Linked DNA regions of Homo sapiens: region 1 is linked to region 2. Evidence: fine-mapped expression QTL. A gene starts in region 2. The other region holds a variant in brackets. All regions are shown on one strand. Distances are from middle to middle.

Region 1 (8,326 bases), 24 kb after region 2:
GGAGGGGGAGTAGGAAGAAGAGAATCTAGTGATATTCCTCACAAGTGCTGATTACGTATTTTATATCCCATTCAATCTTACAATGAATACTGTTGAATCCTCTTTTCAATTTATCTTGGTCATTACCTTTGAGTGTGCTATTGCAAAAAGTAATGACCCATCCTGCGAAAGATTAAGTAAATGCATCAAGCATGGAGGCAGAGAAAGAAACAGAGCAATGTGAGATCAAGTTTTGGGATGAGTAGCATGGAAAAAATAGCCAGGAAGAGAGCTGGGTGGTCTTAGAGCCCTCGCTGCTGCTCCGACACTGTGGATGAAGCCATATTTGGGACTCTGGAGTCTGTACAAGCCTGCCTGGATCCAAATCCCAGTCTGTCACCTGAGAGCTGTGTGCCACTGGGCAAGTGACTTACCCTCTGTTTAATTTGTGAAATGCAATGATGATTAAAAAAACAAACATCTATTTCTGTTGGTTGTGCTGATGATTAGGTTACTCTTTGTAAGGCTTTTACAACCTAACCCAGCTCACAGAAAGTACTGTGTTTGCTCAACACGTTCTCTGAGCCCAACGATCTCATCCCACGGGAAGCTTGGCCCCTGAGGTAAATAGCCCTGGGTAGCCGGCTGTTTTCCTGGTAACATATGAATTTTCCAGCCTGCAGTTGAAGGGGCAGAAGAAGAGGAAGGGGGACAGTGCTGGCCTGTCCACTTGCCTGTTGCCTCATGGCCCATCAGCTGGATGGGCTCACCCAGGACCCACTGGGACATCTCAAGGAACTGCAGCCACCTGAGCCACGGCGGCACTGGCAGCAGGAAGGCAAGTGTGGCTAGAGAGTGTCCTGACAGCTGTGTCAAGACAGGGTCTCAGTGATGACACCACGGTCCATCTAAAGTGGCTGGTGCCATCATGCCAGCTGCAGCAGGGAGGCACAGCCAGGGCTGCATGCTCCATGGAACTGGCAGGAGCTGCGGACAAGCAGGAGCCCTGCCCCTTCCGAGTTGGGTGGTAGCTCTCTGCAGACTTAGGCATCCCTGTGCTCTCGGGCCGGGAGCAGATGGGTGCCCCACTCTCCTGGGCACAGCTGCAGCCACTGAAGTCACAGCTGTAGACCCAGACCTCCTGCTCCACAGAGCAGGCAGAAGCCCCACCCAAGTCCCAGCTGCAGATCCAGGCCTTCTGCTCCATGGAGCAGGCAGGAGCCCCACCCCTCTGGGCACAGATGCAGCTGCCCAAGTCATGGCTGCAGACCCAGGCATCCCTGTGCTCCTGGAAGCCGGGAGCAGAGAGAAGCCCCTCTCCTAGGCGCAGCTACAGCCACCCAAACCATGGCTGCAGACCCAGGCATCTCTGCACTCTAGGGGGCCCAGGAAGCCCCATCCCCGGCCTTCGCAGGTTTGGAAGTGCCTGCTTCTGCTGCCTGGCTTCTCCCTGCTGTCAGTGTCCACTTTGATCTCAGAGTAAAGTCAGGGCGAGCCTGGGCACTGTTGCAGCCTGGCCAGGTGTGCACACGCTCAGGGCAGTGCTAATACACCAGCCCCCTGCTGCCTCAGCACCCTCCAGACTTTAAGCACCGAGAATAGGAGGGAAGCCAAGGGTGGGCTGAGGGTAGCTTGGCACTGGCCTGCAGGCACCCCTTGGCACCTATAGCCTGGACACCATGAATAGCAGCAGGACGCAGACAAGTTCCTGGGTGGAAGAGGGCAGGTCCCTGGTGAGGCCCCCACCTTCAGGCCAGGGAGGTCCTGAAGGCTGGGGACTGGGCTGCCAGTCCTGCAGACCAGAGTGGGAACTTCTGGTGCCTTTACCCATGACTGCCAATGTACCAATCACAGTGCACTTCCTCCCCTCTAAGGCCCATAAAAGCCCTAGGCTCAACCAGAGCTGAGCAGACATCAGGGCAACCAGATGCAGAGAGGAGCTACCCATTCCATGGCCTCCTCTCTGCTGAGAGCTGGGGAGACAACAAGAGGACCTGCCTGCAGAGAGCAACAGCCCACTCCAGGGCCTCCTCTCTGCTGAGAGCCGCAGGCACAAAGGGATGGCCCGTCTGCAGACAGGAGCAACCCACTCCAGGGCCTCCTCTCTGCTGAGAGCCTCAGAGATGACAGGATGGCCTGCCTGCCAAGAGGAGCTTCCCACTCTACGGTCTCCTCTGTGCTAGGAGCTGAACACGCGTTGTGACACCCTGGCTGTGGAAAGGAGCTGCCCCTGCGGGTCTCCTCTGAGCCGTTGTATCGCTCAATAAAGCTCGTCTTCCTCTTGCTCACCCTCCACTTGTCTGCAGACCTCATTCTTCCTGGTCACAGGACAAGAACTTGGGACCCGTCAAATGGCAAGGCTAAAAGAGCTGGTATAACACAAACAGGGCTGAGACATGCCCCTTGCTTGCCATGCTATGGGGGAAGAGAAGGAGAGAAGAGCTGCAGCCCTTCAGGGAGCCTAGACTTGGGAGCCCCCCAGGCCAGGAACAAGCAGGAGCCCTGCCCCTTCTGAGTTGGACTCCCTCTTTGGGGCCCTGTGGTTCCTGGCATACTGCATTCCCCAGTGCCAGCTGTGGAAGCTGCTTGCAGTGCACCTGGTCCAGCTGCAGCCTTGCAGAGAGTGGGCGCCCATGCCAGCACTGGAGCTGCCCACCTTGCAGCAGCTGCGGGTGTGCCTGACTGCACAGTGGCTGGACCCCATGCTCACTCACACACCCCTCACTGCTCTGTGCCTGACTCGCTCTTGGCAGGTGTGGGATCCAGGCCAGTAGCGTGAGTTGAGTGCAGCATGCCAGGCTGAGTGGGCAGAACAAGCCCAGTGGGCCCAAGCAAAACTCGGGCAAGGGTGCCACCAGCCACAGAAGTTTCCAGCTAGAAATGTGACACCCCAAGGATCCTCTGGCAAGCGGTCCCATCTGGCTGGAAGACCAGGGCCCACTGTGGCTGGCTCCCTCACCCAAGTCAGGAGCCTCTGGAGTCCTCCTTCCCACGGATGCTGCTGTCCACGCCTCCCTCCTCAGTTCCTGCCAAGGCTCTTCTCTGACTGACTGCTCCTCCTCACCTGGTCTTCCCAAGCCTCCCTACTCTCTGTTCTTCCCACTCAGCAGTCTCCTTAACCATCACCCTTGGGCAATTATTTAGATTTAGAGCTTGGCTACTTAAAACTCACTGTTATGGAAAACTTTGAAAGTGCATCAGGGCCAGGCATGGTGGTTCACACCTGTAATCCCAGCACTTTGGGAGGCCGAGGCATGTGATCACTTGAGGTCAGGGGTTCAAGACCAGCCTGGCCAACATGGTAAAACCCCGTCTCTACTAAAAATACAAAGAAGAAAAAAAATTAGCCAGGAGTAGTGGTGGACACCTGCAGTCCTGGCTACTTGGGAGGCTGAAGCAGAAGAATCACTTGAACCCAGGAGGCAGAGGTTGTAGTGAGCCGAGATCGCGTCACTGCACTCCAGCCTGGGTGACAGAATGAGACTCCATCTCAAAAAAAAAAAAAAAAAAAAAAGGCGCATCAGGCCACAGTTTTAACTTTTCTTTAAAAGAGAACAGTATGCCCTTAAAGTCCAAGAGCTACAGACTGGTCCTGGAAGCCATCCTGTGGGTCTGGTGCTCCTCACCCACTGCCCTGTGGTGGAGGAGCCCACACCTGCCCCACACCCTAGTGCCAAGGGAGCCTCTGCACTGGCGCTCTGGGGTGGCTGCTCGCCTTTTCCTTGCCGGGGAGCACAGCCCACAGCTGTCCATAGTGCAGGAACTACATCTCCACAACTGTATCCAATCATCCTTGTTCTGCCATCTGGGTCCACTCAAAATAAATACACATTTTTTCACCTGAAAGTCCGTCATAACTGAAGTCACAGATTCCACCCATCCCAGATTTCTCTTTGCAGGCTAACTCTCCTTAGTTGCCAAGTGCGCGGTTTTGCTCCAGTTTGTAACACACATGCGTGAAAGTATCTCGTTTGGGTCAAGCTAAGAGCTGGGAGCTGAAGACTCTGTAGGGCAAGACAGGCGAGCTCCCTGGGCCTGCCCCTGCCCCTGCCCCTGACTGCATTCAGCAAAGAAGCCGCAAAGCATGTAACCCAAGAAAGAAGAACTCACCGCTGACCCAGGACAGCCAGCCCAGAGGAGGCCGAGGGAGCAGGCTGTGGAGACTGAGGCAGGAGGGTGGAAGGCTCTGGCAAAAACGGGGGATGGGCATAAGACAAAAGAAGACTATTACTCAGACATGGAAAAACCGAGGACAGAAAATGGGCAAATCGTACAAGGAGAGAAAAGCAAACCAAACTCATCAAAACCAATTAAACAAACAACCACAAGTAAGTCATGGTCCAAATATGATGCCCTCAATTTCCCACAGATTGAGTGGTGCGAAGCTGGCTGGGGGGAGAGCCGGGATTGGCCTTTTACCTTGGCTGCT[T/A]TGGTCTACCAGCAGGCTGCTGGGACACAGGCCCTGTGCTGGGGGACGGGGATGGGGACAGGAGGATATCTGGGTCCCCTTCCCAGTTTCATGTCGCTCATAAAAGTGGTCATTTTGCTCTGTGTCAGCAGGGACACTTCCGGTTTGAAGGTGTATTAGGACTGAATGAGCTCTTTGAGGGCATGAACTCTTCTATTAACCTTTGTATCCCCAAAGCCTATTGCAGTGCCTGGCACATGTGGAGTGAGTGCTTTTAATCAGAACTGAACAAACTGCAGGATGAACTGTGGTTCTAAGACTTCCACACACATTGAGACGAATTTGAAAGTCAGATTCTAATTACAAGCATGCAGCCAGATGTGGATGCATCTCACTTCTTGACTTGGCTGAAAACTAACATACAAAAGCCTTTCTGAAATCCATTTCCATGATATCCACGGTGTTCTAAACTCTCCCTGTCAGTGCCATTTCCATGATATCCATGGTGTTCTAAACTCTCGCTGTGGGTGCCATTTCCATGATATCCACGGTGTTCTAAACTCTCCCCATCAGTGCCATTTCCACGATATCCATGGTGTTCTAAACTCTCCCCATTGGTGCCATTTCCATGATATCCACGGCGTTCTAAACTCTCCCCGTCGGTGCCATTTCCATGATATCCACGGTGTTCTAAACTCTCGCTGTGGGTGCCATTTCCATGATATCCACAGCGTTCTAAACTCTCGCTGTCAGTGCCATTTCCATGATATCCACGGTGTTCTAAACTCTCGCTGTCAGTGCCATTTCCATGATATCCACGGTGTTCTAAACTCTCGCTGTGGGTGCCATTTCCATGATATCCACAGTGTTCTAAACTCTCCCTGTTGGTGCCATTTCCATGATATCCACGGTGTTCTAAACTCTCGCTGTCAGTGCCATTTCCATGATATCCACGGTGTTCTAAACTCTCGCTGTCAGTGCCATTTCCATGATATCCACGGTGTTCTAAACTCTCGCTGTGGGTGCCATTTCCATGATATCCACGGTGTTCTAAACTCTCCCTGTTGGTGCCATTTCCATGATATCCACGACGTTCTAAGCTCTCCCTGTCGGTGCCATTTCCATGATATCCATGGTGTTCTAAACTCTCGCTGTGGGTGCCATTTCCATGATATCCACGGTGTTCTAAACTCTCGCTGTGGGTGCCATTTCCATGATATCCACGGTGTTCTAAACTCTCCCTGTTGGTGCCATTTCCATGATATCCACGACGTTCTAAGCTCTCCCTGTCGGTGCCATTTCCATGATATCCATGGCGTTCTAAACTCTCCCTGTCAGTGCCATTTCCATGATATCCATGGTGTTCTAAACTCTCGCTGTGGGTGCCATTTCCATGATATCCACGGCGTTCTAAACTCTCCCTGTCGGTGCCATTTCCATGATATCCACGGCGTTCTAAACTCTCCCCGTCGGTGCCATTTCCATGATATCCATGGCGTTCTAAGCTCTCCCCGTCGGTGACATTTCCATGATATCCACGGCGTTCTAAACTCTCCCCATCGGTGCCATTTCCATAATATCCACGGCGTTCTAAACTCTCCCCATCGGTGCCATTTCCATGATATCCATGGCATTCTAAGCTCTCCCCGTCGGTGCCATTTCCATGATATCCACGGCGTCCTAAGCTCTCCCCATCGGTGCCATTTCCATGATATCCACAGCATTCTAAACTCTCGCTGTCGGTGCCATTTCCATGATATCCACAGTGTCCTAAGCTCTCCCCGTCGGTGCCATTTCCATGATATCCATGGCGTTCTAAACTCTCCCCATCGGTACCATTTCCATGATATCCATGGTGTTCTAAACTCTCCCCATCGGTGCCATTTCCATGATATGCACGGCGTTCTAAGCTCTCCCTGTCAGTGCCATTTCCATGATATCCACGGCATTCTAAGCTCTCCCCGTCGGTGCCACTTCCATGATATCCACGGTGTTCTAAGCTCTGTCAGTGTCACTTCCATGATATCCACAGCGTTCTAAGCTCTCCCCATCGGTGCCATTTCCATGATATCCACGGCGTTTTAAACTCTCCGTCAGTGCCATTTCCATGATATCCACGGCGTTCTAAACTCTCCCCATCGGTACCATTTCCATGATATCCACGGTGTTCTAAACTCTCCCCATCGGTGCCATTTCCATGATATGCACGGCGTTCTAAGCTCTCCCTGTCAGTGCCATTTCCATGATATCCACGGCATTCTAAGCTCTCCTCGTCGGTGCCACTTCCATGATATCCACAGTGTTCTAAGCTCTGTCAGTGTCACTTCCATGATATCCACAGCGTTCTAAGCTCTCCCCATCGGTGCCATTTCCATGATATCCACGGTGTTTTAAACTCTCCCCGTTGGTGCCACTTCCGTGATATCCACGGCGTTCTAAGCTCTCCCCATCAGTGCCATTTCCATGATATCCACGGCATTCTAAACTCTCGCTATGGGTGCTATTTCCATGATATCCACGGCGTTCTAAGCTCTCCCCATCGGTGCCATTTCCAAGATATCCACGGTGTTCTGAACTCTCCCCGTTGGTGCCATTTCCGAGCTCTCCCCGTCGGTGCCATTTCCATGATATCCGCGGCGTCCTGAGCTCTCCCCGTCGGTGCCATTTCCATGATATCCACGGCGTCCTGAGCTCTCCCCGTCGGTGCCATTTCCATGATATCCGCGGCGTCCTGAGCTCTCCCCGTCGGTGCCATTTCCATGATATCCACGGCGTCCTGAGCTCTCCCCGTCGGTGCCATTTCCATGATATCCACGGCGTCCTGAGCTCTCCCCGTCGGTGCCATTTCCATGATATCCACGGCGTCCTGAGCTCTCCCCGTCGGTGCCATTTCCATGATATCCAGGGCGTCCTGAGCTCTCCCCGTCGGTGCCATTTCCATGATATCCACGGCGTCCTGAGCTCTCCCCGTCGGTGCCATTTCCATGATATCCACGGCGTCCTGAGCTCTCCCCGTCGGTGCCATTTCCATGATATCCACGGCGTCCTGAGCTCTCCCCGTCGGTGCCATTTCCATGATATCCACGGCGTCCTGAGCTCTCCCCGTCGGTGCCACTTCCATGATATCCACGGTGTTCTAAGCTCTGTCAGTGTCACTTCCATGATATCCACAGCGTTCTAAGCTCTCCCCATCGGTGCCATTTCCATGATATCCACGGCGTTTTAAACTCTCCCTGTCAGTGCCATTTCCATGATATCCACGGCGTTCTAAACTCTCCCCATCGGTACCATTTCCATGATATCCACGGTGTTCTAAACTCTCCCCATCGGTGCCATTTCCATGATATGCACGGCGTTCTAAGCTCTCCCTGTCAGTGCCATTTCCATGATATCCACGGCATTCTAAGCTCTCCTCGTCGGTGCCACTTCCATGATATCCACAGTGTTCTAAGCTCTGTCAGTGTCACTTCCATGATATCCACAGCGTTCTAAGCTCTCCCCATCGGTGCCATTTCCATGATATCCACGGTGTTTTAAACTCTCCCCGTCGGTGCCACTTCCGTGATATCCACGGCATTCTAAGCTCTCCCCATCGGTGCCATTTCCATGATATCCACGGCATTCTAAACTCTCGCTATGGGTGCTATTTCCATGATATCCACGGCGTTCTAAGCTCTCCCCATCGGTGCCATTTCCAAGATATCCACGGTGTTCTGAACTCTCCCCGTTGGTGCCATTTCCGAGCTCTCCCCGTCGGTGCCATTTCCATGATATCCGCGGCATCCTGAGCTCTCCCCGTCGGTGCCATTTCCATGATATCCACGGCGTCCTGAGCTCTCCCCGTCGGTGCCATTTCCATGATATCCACGGCGTCCTGAGCTCTCCCCGTCGGTGCCATTTCCATGATATCCACGGCGTTCTGAGCTCTCCCCGTCGGTG
Region 2 (8,326 bases):
GACAGGCAGCAGCCACTGGCTCCAGCCACAGCCTTGAGCCACACTCTCCTGAAAACCACCTTGGGGCAAGTGGCTCAAGTGACCTCCAGGAAGGCCCTGTCCTCAGAGGACCCTGGCATTGCTGTCAACCAATTCACTAAACACTTTACTGAATAAGAGAATCCAATCTACAAAATGTATCCACTCCACCCCAGCCCCCTGCAACCTTGGGCCTAGTGGGGTCACTCCTTTGTCCCCATCTCTGAGATGCAAGGAATACTCACCTTGTGGTTAATGAATGAATGAATGGTGTGAATGAATGAATGAAGTGTGTGAATGAATGAATGAAGTGTGTGAATGAACTGTGTGAATGAATGAATGAACTGTGGATGATTGCATGAATGTACTGTATGAATGGATGATTGAATGAATGTACTGTGTGAGTGAATTAGTGCATGAATGTACTGTGTGAATCAATGTACTGTGTGGATGATTGCATGAATGTACTGTGTGAATGGATGATTGAATGAATGTACTGTGTGAGTGAATTAGTGAATGAATGTACTGTGTGGATGACTGCATGAATGTACTGTGTGAATGGATGATTGAATGTACTGTGTGAATGGATGCTTGAATGAATGTACTGTGTGAGTGAATTAGTGAATGAATGTACTGTGTGAATCAATGTACTGTGTGGATGATTGCATGAATGTACTGTGTGAATGGATGAATGAATGTACTGTGTGAGTGAGTGAATGAATGAATGTACTATTTGAATGGGTGGATGAATGAAAGTACTGTGTGAGTGAATGAATGAATGTACTGTGTGTGTATGTGGGGGGCTGCTCCTGCCTGCGGGCACAGAGGAACTCTTCTGTGTGGGTGGGGGGACACCTTGCAAAGTGCTGGTGTGTGAGTTACACCTATGGATACTTATCCTGTGACCCTCAGCAGAAGGCAGGATAGAGACTTCTGGTTCACAGAAGAGGGTCTGAGAGCCAGGGGGGTTTCCAGCAAGACTCTGAGAGCATGGAGTCACACAAGATCACTCCGTCACTGGCCTGCAGTCCCTGCCTCAGTGCAGAAACAGCTCTGCCTGAGACCCCAGCCCGATCCAACCCAAGGGGCCACAGGATCCAGAAAATTAAGCCCACCTGGCCCCAGTTCTCCCATGTCCCCCTCTCTGAGCACAGCAAAGAATGCTCCCATGTCCCCTGGTGCCCTAGGGCCTTCGCAGGCGTGCTTTTGGAGGGGCCTCCCACTACCAAAGGAAGTTCCTCCTGGCTGCTGTCTACTCCAGCCCTCCAAACAAGCCCCCTCCCTTCCCAGACAAATCAGCTGTGGCCCTGCCTGGAGCACCTCCAAGGCCTCGGTCTACCACCACCCCACATCCTAGCTAGAGACCCCCAGGCCTAGGCCCACCACTGCCCTACATCCTAGCTGAAGCCCCCGAGGCCTGGGCCCACCACTACCCTACATCCTAGCTGGAGATCCCCAGGCCTGGGCCTACCACCACCCACATCCTAGCTGAAGCCCCCGAGGCCTGGGCCTACTACCACCCACATCCTAGCTGGAGAACCCCCACCCAGGCCAGGGCCCACCACCACCCTATATCTTAGCTGGAGACTCCCCCCACACAGCCTGGGCCCACCACCACCCACATCCTAGCTGGAGACCCCCCAGCCTGGGCCCACCACCGCCCTACATCCTAGCTGGAGACCCCCCAGCCTGGGCCCACCGCCAAGTGGGGGCCCCAGGTCGCAGAGCTCACTGAGACGGCATGAGGGCCGGGCTGGGAGAACAGCTCCTGCTGCCCCTGGGCTGTTCCGCAGCCTCCTTGGCCTCCTGTGAGACTGGGTGAGCCTGGAAGCCGCTGCCACGGCCAGAGCTGGACTGAGATGGGGACTGTGCCTCAGCGAGTCTCTGGAGCGGCACCCTGGCTTCCTACACAGGAACATGCCCCAGACCCGGCGCCTCCTTCCTCTCCTCAGACCCAGAGCCAGTAGCTTTGCCATGGAGCCTGTGCTCCTTTCAGCCGAGGAAGCTGTCCAGAAAGCGAGGATTGTCCAGGGATGCAGAGTAGCTGCAGTACAGCCGCCCCATGCCGCTCTGGGAAAAAGGCCTGTGGATTCGAGTCCAGCCTCTGAGCAGCGGCTGCCAGTCCTGCTCTGGGGACTCGTGGAGGGCCTGAGATCCTTCCAGGCAGATGATGAGATCGAAGCCCATTGCATGAGGGCACCTTTTGCTCCCATGCTCTGATGGGCACACGGCGGCTTTCGAGGGCTGCAGGCCAGAGCAGGCACCTGACAAGGCTGGTAACATACGCAGCCAAGGCTGGATTTTCTTCATAGACTTCAACCAACAGCACATCTCAGCAGATGAAGTGCTGGAGCCGATATGGGAATCCAGCTTCCACTAAGCCGGACAATACAAAGATTCGCACCAACGTAGAACCACGCCACTTTTCTCAGGCGGGTTTTTCATTTTTAAAAGTATGATTGCTTTTCATAAAACATTATGCTATTTATGTTAATGTGTAATAGCAATATTTTCTTATTTTTAAGTGAATTGGCAAGTATTCTGAACATTTCTGTTATGATTTAGAAAATGATAAGTATCCATAGGTATAACCCATACAAACAAAAAAGTTCTTCAGTGTCCTCAATTAGTTTTTTTTGTTTTTGTTTTTTGTTTTTTTGTTTTTTTTTTTTTTTTGAGATGGAGTCTCGCTCTGTTGCCCAGGCTGGACTGCAGTGGCGCGATCTTGGCTCACTACAACCCCTGCCCCCTGGGTTCAAGAAATTCTCCTGCCTCAGCCTTCTGAGTGGCTGGGATTACTGGCGTGCACCACCACATCCAGCTAGTTTTTGTATTTTTAGTACAGATGGGGCTTCACCATGTTGGCCAGGCTGGTCTCGAGTTCCTGACCTCAAGTGATCCGCCCGCCCTGGCCTCCCAAAGTGCTGGGATTACAGGCATGAGTCTCACTCTGTCGCCCAGGCTGGAGGGCAGTGGCACACACAGTTCACTGCAGGCTTGACCTCCCCTGGCTCAGGTGATCCTCCCACCTCAGTCTCCTGAGTAGCCGGGACCACAGACACAGTCTCCTGACTAGTTGAGACCACAGGCGCACTCCACCACACCCAGCTAATTTTTGTATGTTTTGTAGAGATGAGGTCTCCCTGTGTTGCCAAGGCTGGTATCAAACTCTGGGCTCAAGTGATCCTCCCGCCTCGGCCTCCCAAAGTGCTGGGATTACAGGCATGAGCCACTGCGCCTGGCCCTCAGTGACCTTTAAGAGTATGAAGGAGTCCTCAGATAAAAACATTTGAGAAGCACGGAGGTGGAAATTTGTCTTTGGCCTGGGGGCCTGGAGTCTAAATACTGCATTGAGTGGCTGATCTGTGGTTTTCGCTTAAAATACAGGTTAGATCATTTGTTTCTGTTTGCATTCTGTCCTAGTTGCTTCTATTTATTTTTTCTCTCTTTTTGAATCTGTGAAACATTAACAGGGTTCCAAACATCAGAGTGTTTTGTCTAAGCTTAAAAGCCCTCTGGGTGATTCCGATGAGCAGAGGCCGGGAAGGATTGAGCAAGACCATTCCCGAGCTCCTTCCTCCGCTCTGTTTCCAGATCCCATGACTGGGGACCTATAAATATTTTCCTGACATGGAGCAGGATCAACTTCAGCATCTGTTAGCTTCATCCCAAAGGCAGGGAAGCCTAGAGCCCCTGGGAGGGCTCTGCACCGCACACACCGCCGGCCTGCAGCCCCAGCCCTGTGCGGGGTCCTGGGGAGGGGGGCCCCCTTTCTGTGGCTCTTCCTGACTCCCTGCGCGTTCCACCCCAGACCCTCAGCCCACTCTGACCTCCCTCCAGGAGGGATGGCTTGCAAATGCCCTCTGGCCACAGTGCAGACCGCTAGGCTGTTCTGTGCAGCTTTAGGCCATGCCAGGAAAGAGACTTAAAGCCAGGGCCCCAAAGGCCAGGGATGCCTGCGCCGGGAGCCAGGAGCTTCCCCAGCCACTTCCAGCATGTAGACTGAAGTCAGGCCACGCACAGGGCTCTCCAGGTCACACCCTGCGCAAGAAGGTGTAGCACGCTGGCTCTAATTTCGAGAAGGTGAAAACAAGAGCCCCTCTGCCCCCACGCCCTGAGCTTTCCCGAAAGGCTTGGGGCAAAGAACTCCCCTCAGTGGCACCTAGGGAGGCACCAGGAAGGCGCTTGTTGGAACGGGAGAGAAACGGGGAGAGGGAGGAGGACAGGGGGGAGGGGAGGAGGGGAGGGGAGGAGGGGAGGGGAGGAGGGGAGGGGAGGGGAAGGGAGGGGACAGGGAGGGGAGGGGAGGGATAGGACAGACAGACAAAGAAAGGGGTGCGGCAGCACTGCCAGGGGAAGAGGGTGATCCGACCCGGGGAAGGTCGCTGGGCAGGGCGAGTTGGGAAAGCGGCAGCCCCCGCCGCCCCCGCAGCCCCTTCTCCTCCTTTCTCCCACGTCCTATCTGCCTCTCGCTGGAGGCCAGGCCGTGCAGCATCGAAGACAGGAGGAACTGGAGCCTCATTGGCCGGCCCGGGGCGCCGGCCTCGGGCTTAAATAGGAGCTCCGGGCTCTGGCTGGGACCCGACCGCTGCCGGCCGCGCTCCCGCTGCTCCTGCCGGGTGAGTACTGCGTGCCCCCGGGACACCCAGAGAGGGCCCGGGCCTCCTGCACTTTCCCCGCGGCCCAGAACCTTGTGGCACCTCCAGAGGGACCCCCAGGACTGGCTGCGACCGAGCTTTAAGGGTCTAGTCCCGGGGGCAGCCAGTCGGCCAAGGCCCCGGGTCCCTGCGACGGCGAAGGCATCCCGGAGGCCGCACCCAGACCGGCCCGGCAAGCTGCAGGGACTCGGACTGAAAACCTGCCCGTTACCCCTGGTCGCTCGCAGGCGCACGGGCGATCTAACCCCGCGCCGTCCATTCCGCTGATGGGGGTCTCGGAAGCACCGCAGGAGAGCTTTGCGGAGCAGGGAGGGGGTCGCGGGTGCTCGGGGCCGTCCTCAGAGCCCAAAGTGCCGCAGCCCTCTCGGCTTTCCACCCCGAGGCTGCCACGACGGTGCCAGCGCGCGGCTGCTCCCCTCTGTGCTCCCAGGTGATGGAAAACCCCAGCCCGGCCGCCGCCCTGGGCAAGGCCCTCTGCGCTCTCCTCCTGGCCACTCTCGGCGCCGCCGGCCAGCCTCTTGGGGGAGAGTCCATCTGTTCCGCCAGAGCCCTGGCCAAATACAGCATCACCTTCACGGGCAAGTGGAGCCAGACGGCCTTCCCCAAGCAGTACCCCCTGTTCCGCCCCCCTGCGCAGTGGTCTTCGCTGCTGGGTAAGTACAGCCCCCTCCTCGCCTCCTGCTCCACCAGGAGGGCTGCGGCGCCGGAGCCCCCCGCACAGCTGCACGGCGGCGCTTCCCAGTCTGGGGCGTGCTGACGTCGGGAGACTCTAACACCAGAATGTTTGCCGAGCGCCTGCGGTGTGCGGTTCCGGGGATGCGGTGGGGGCAGGGGGCGCTCACGGGGAGGGCGCAGGTGGGTCGCGGCAGGGGCAGCCACAGGGTGTCACGGTCCGACGTGACTGGGGGCCATGGTTCCCTGCGGGCGGCGGGGAGGGATTTCCTGGGGCGCCCCCTGGAATCCAAGCCCGACCGCAGTGTCTGACCATGGTCCGCGGCGCGGCCGGGTGGTCCTGCAGGGGCCGCGCATAGCTCCGACTACAGCATGTGGAGGAAGAACCAGTACGTCAGTAACGGGCTGCGCGACTTTGCGGAGCGCGGCGAGGCCTGGGCGCTGATGAAGGAGATCGAGGCGGCGGGGGAGGCGCTGCAGAGCGTGCACGCGGTGTTTTCGGCGCCCGCCGTCCCCAGCGGCACCGGGCAGACGTCGGCGGAGCTGGAGGTGCAGCGCAGGCACTCGCTGGTGAGCGCGGGGCCGGCCGGGGGCGGGGTCCGGGGGGCCGGGGCCAGGCGCGCTGAGCCGCTGTCGCCGCAGGTCTCGTTTGTGGTGCGCATCGTGCCCAGCCCCGACTGGTTCGTGGGCGTGGACAGCCTGGACCTGTGCGACGGGGACCGTTGGCGGGAACAGGCGGCGCTGGACCTGTACCCCTACGACGCCGGGACGGACAGCGGCTTCACCTTCTCCTCCCCCAACTTCGCCACCATCCCGCAGGACACGGTGACCGAGGTGAGTGGGCACCCCGCGTGCGCAAGGGCCGCTATGGCCCCCGCGGTGGGGACGGGGCTGGGGCCTGGCTGCACCCTCGCCTCCCAGCCCAGGACAGCCGCTTGCGGCTTTTGTGTGGAAGAGGCTCTGCTTCTAGCGCCAGCAGTGAGCAAGGGGGTGCAGCCCTCCCATACTCTCCCAACCCGGGGTCACAGCACCGCAGGGAGGACAGCGGGACGCGCGTCCCGAGGAGGCTGCCCCTTCCTGGCCTCGGTTTCCAGCCCGTGTTCCGTGGGATGGCTGAGAGGAGTACATGGGACCCTGTCCCCAACAGTGGTGCAGAGGGCACGCTGGACGCTGGGCAGTGGCCCCAGTGAGGCCATACGCATACCAGAAGGTGGGCTTCTCGGACCCCAGGCCAACCTCCTCTTCTTCCTCCCCAGATAACGTCCTCCTCTCCCAGCCACCCGGCCAACTCCTTCTACTACCCGCGGCTGAAGGCCCTGCCTCCCATCGCCAGGGTGACACTGGTGCGGCTGCGACAGAGCCCCAGGGCCTTCATCCCTCCCGCCCCAGTCCTGCCCAGCAGGGACAATGAGATTGTAGACAGCGCCTCAGGTAACGGACATACAGGTCACATGGGACACACAGCAGCCCCGAACCCTGCCACAGGGCGACCACCAAACCCGAACCTAAGGCTCTGAGAAATTCCAAGTAGGGATTCGTAGTGCGTACTGCAAGATGGTGCCTAGAAGATTTAGGATTCTGTTGATTCACACACTGAAGATGTGACTCTTGCACATTATTTGCAGTTGAAAGCATCTTACAGGGCCACAGCCCAGAGGAAAGAATGAAAGGAGGCTCCAGACAGTACCTGAGAGACTCTGTCCTGTCAGACACGCACCCACAGGTGACCTGTGTGTCACAGCTGACAAGGAAGCTTGCTAGGATGGCCCTGTGTGGCCACCGGGTGACAGCTATGCTGCAGGGCACCTGTGGGGGTCTCGGGACCCAGCCACCACACAGCTCGGGGCTCTGCTCACAGGCGCCTTGGCCTGGGGCGGGGCAGGTGCTGATGAGCATTCTCCTAGCTCTTCCAGGCACCTGCTGGACAGGGCAGGCTGGGAACGCTGGGGCCGAGTGGCAGTTCCCTCCCTACTCAGCTGGGTGGCAGCCACTGGCCTCACGGAGCGCCTGTGGTCTGGAGCGCATTGCTGGGTCGTGGGTCAGGGCCTGTTGGCTCTGGGTCTCTGGGTCTCACCTGATATGGGTGTGGGACAGTCAGTGTAGGCCCCAGACAACAGCGGACTTCAGACTTTCCCGAGGAGGAACTGGAGCCCACCAACCTGGCCATGGGCCCCGTCGTCCTCCACCCTCCATGTTGCTGGCTGGAGTTGAGGCAGGTACGGGGCCGCCCCACACCTGCCCCCCAAGCCATGTGGTAGGGACAGATGTCGTCTTGAGGAGCAGCAGTAATTACAAGCTTACTGTCAGCCGTCCCTGGAAGCAAGGGCCAGGTCAGGTCAGACAGGAGGCCGCCTGGCTGGCGGGAACCACTCCCCAGACAGAGACTGTGCCCAGTCCTGGGTCCCTCCTCATTTGGGATGAACTGGGCCTCCCTGTGCCAGCCTCGGTGCTGCCCCTGCCCAGTGCAGGCTTGGGCTCCTCACTCATTTGTCCACGCGGATGCCCCATTCCAAGCAGATGTCCCCGAGCCACTTACCCAACAGGCAGACGTGCCAGCACTGTTCGTGGTGTGCAACTGGTCTGGCGGGAAGAGCCCCTCGTGGGCAGAGGGTCCAGAGAGGTGCGGTTTGCCCCACATTTGGGGGCACTGGGCCACAGTGGGCAGGGGAGCACATGGCCAGTGCCCTGGGCTAGGAGAGGGATAAAGTCAGCTGTGGCCAAGCAGAAGCAGTATTGCAGGGGAAGGGTGGGGAGAGACTGTGCTATGAGCTCTGAGCAGGAGGCAGGACATGGAGAGAAGGGTGGGAGACGGACAGAGCCAGCTGTGCCAGCCGAGGGACCAGAGTGGGCAGTGGGGACGGAGCACAGACCACCGCCCACAAGGGTCTCTCCTGTGACTTCTGGCTTCCCGAGGGCAGAGGCTGGGATGGGCATGTGGCGGCTGGCACCCAGGAGGCTCCGCCAGGTCCACGCCAAGC

Which allele goes with the higher level. Alleles are on the strand shown, and positions count from the first base shown. SD is a standard deviation of normalised expression in the study named.
As copies of T replace A in region 1, the expression in skeletal muscle of the gene that starts at base 4,598 in region 2 goes down (moderate effect, 0.41 SD a copy in FUSION).

Evidence for each region.
Region 1: its variant is fine-mapped to the expression of SPON2 in skeletal muscle (FUSION, PIP 0.95).

What each region holds. Positions count from the first base shown.
Region 1 is chr4:1,144,613-1,152,938 of GRCh38, reverse strand. All of the region lies in intron 1 of LOC124900647 (nascent polypeptide-associated complex subunit alpha, muscle-specific form-like), which reads right to left. LOC124900837 (hornerin-like) reads right to left here and starts at 7,508. Exons shown (of 2, transcript XM_047416541.1): 1 at 7,005-7,508; 2 at 1-6,389. The coding sequence starts at 7,508. The coding sequence ends at 4,779. RefSeq lists enhancers at 2,180-2,680, 2,681-3,181. The variant T/A (reference allele first, on the strand shown) is at 4,409.
Region 2 is chr4:1,168,855-1,177,180 of GRCh38, reverse strand. It overlaps SPON2 (spondin 2), which reads left to right and starts at 4,598. Exons shown (of 6, transcript NM_012445.4): 1 at 4,598-4,637; 2 at 5,107-5,329; 3 at 5,695-5,918; 4 at 5,991-6,182; 5 at 6,605-6,779. The coding sequence starts at 5,110. The region is part of intron 1 of LOC124900647 (nascent polypeptide-associated complex subunit alpha, muscle-specific form-like); the gene reads right to left. RefSeq lists enhancers at 3,985-4,702, 4,703-5,418.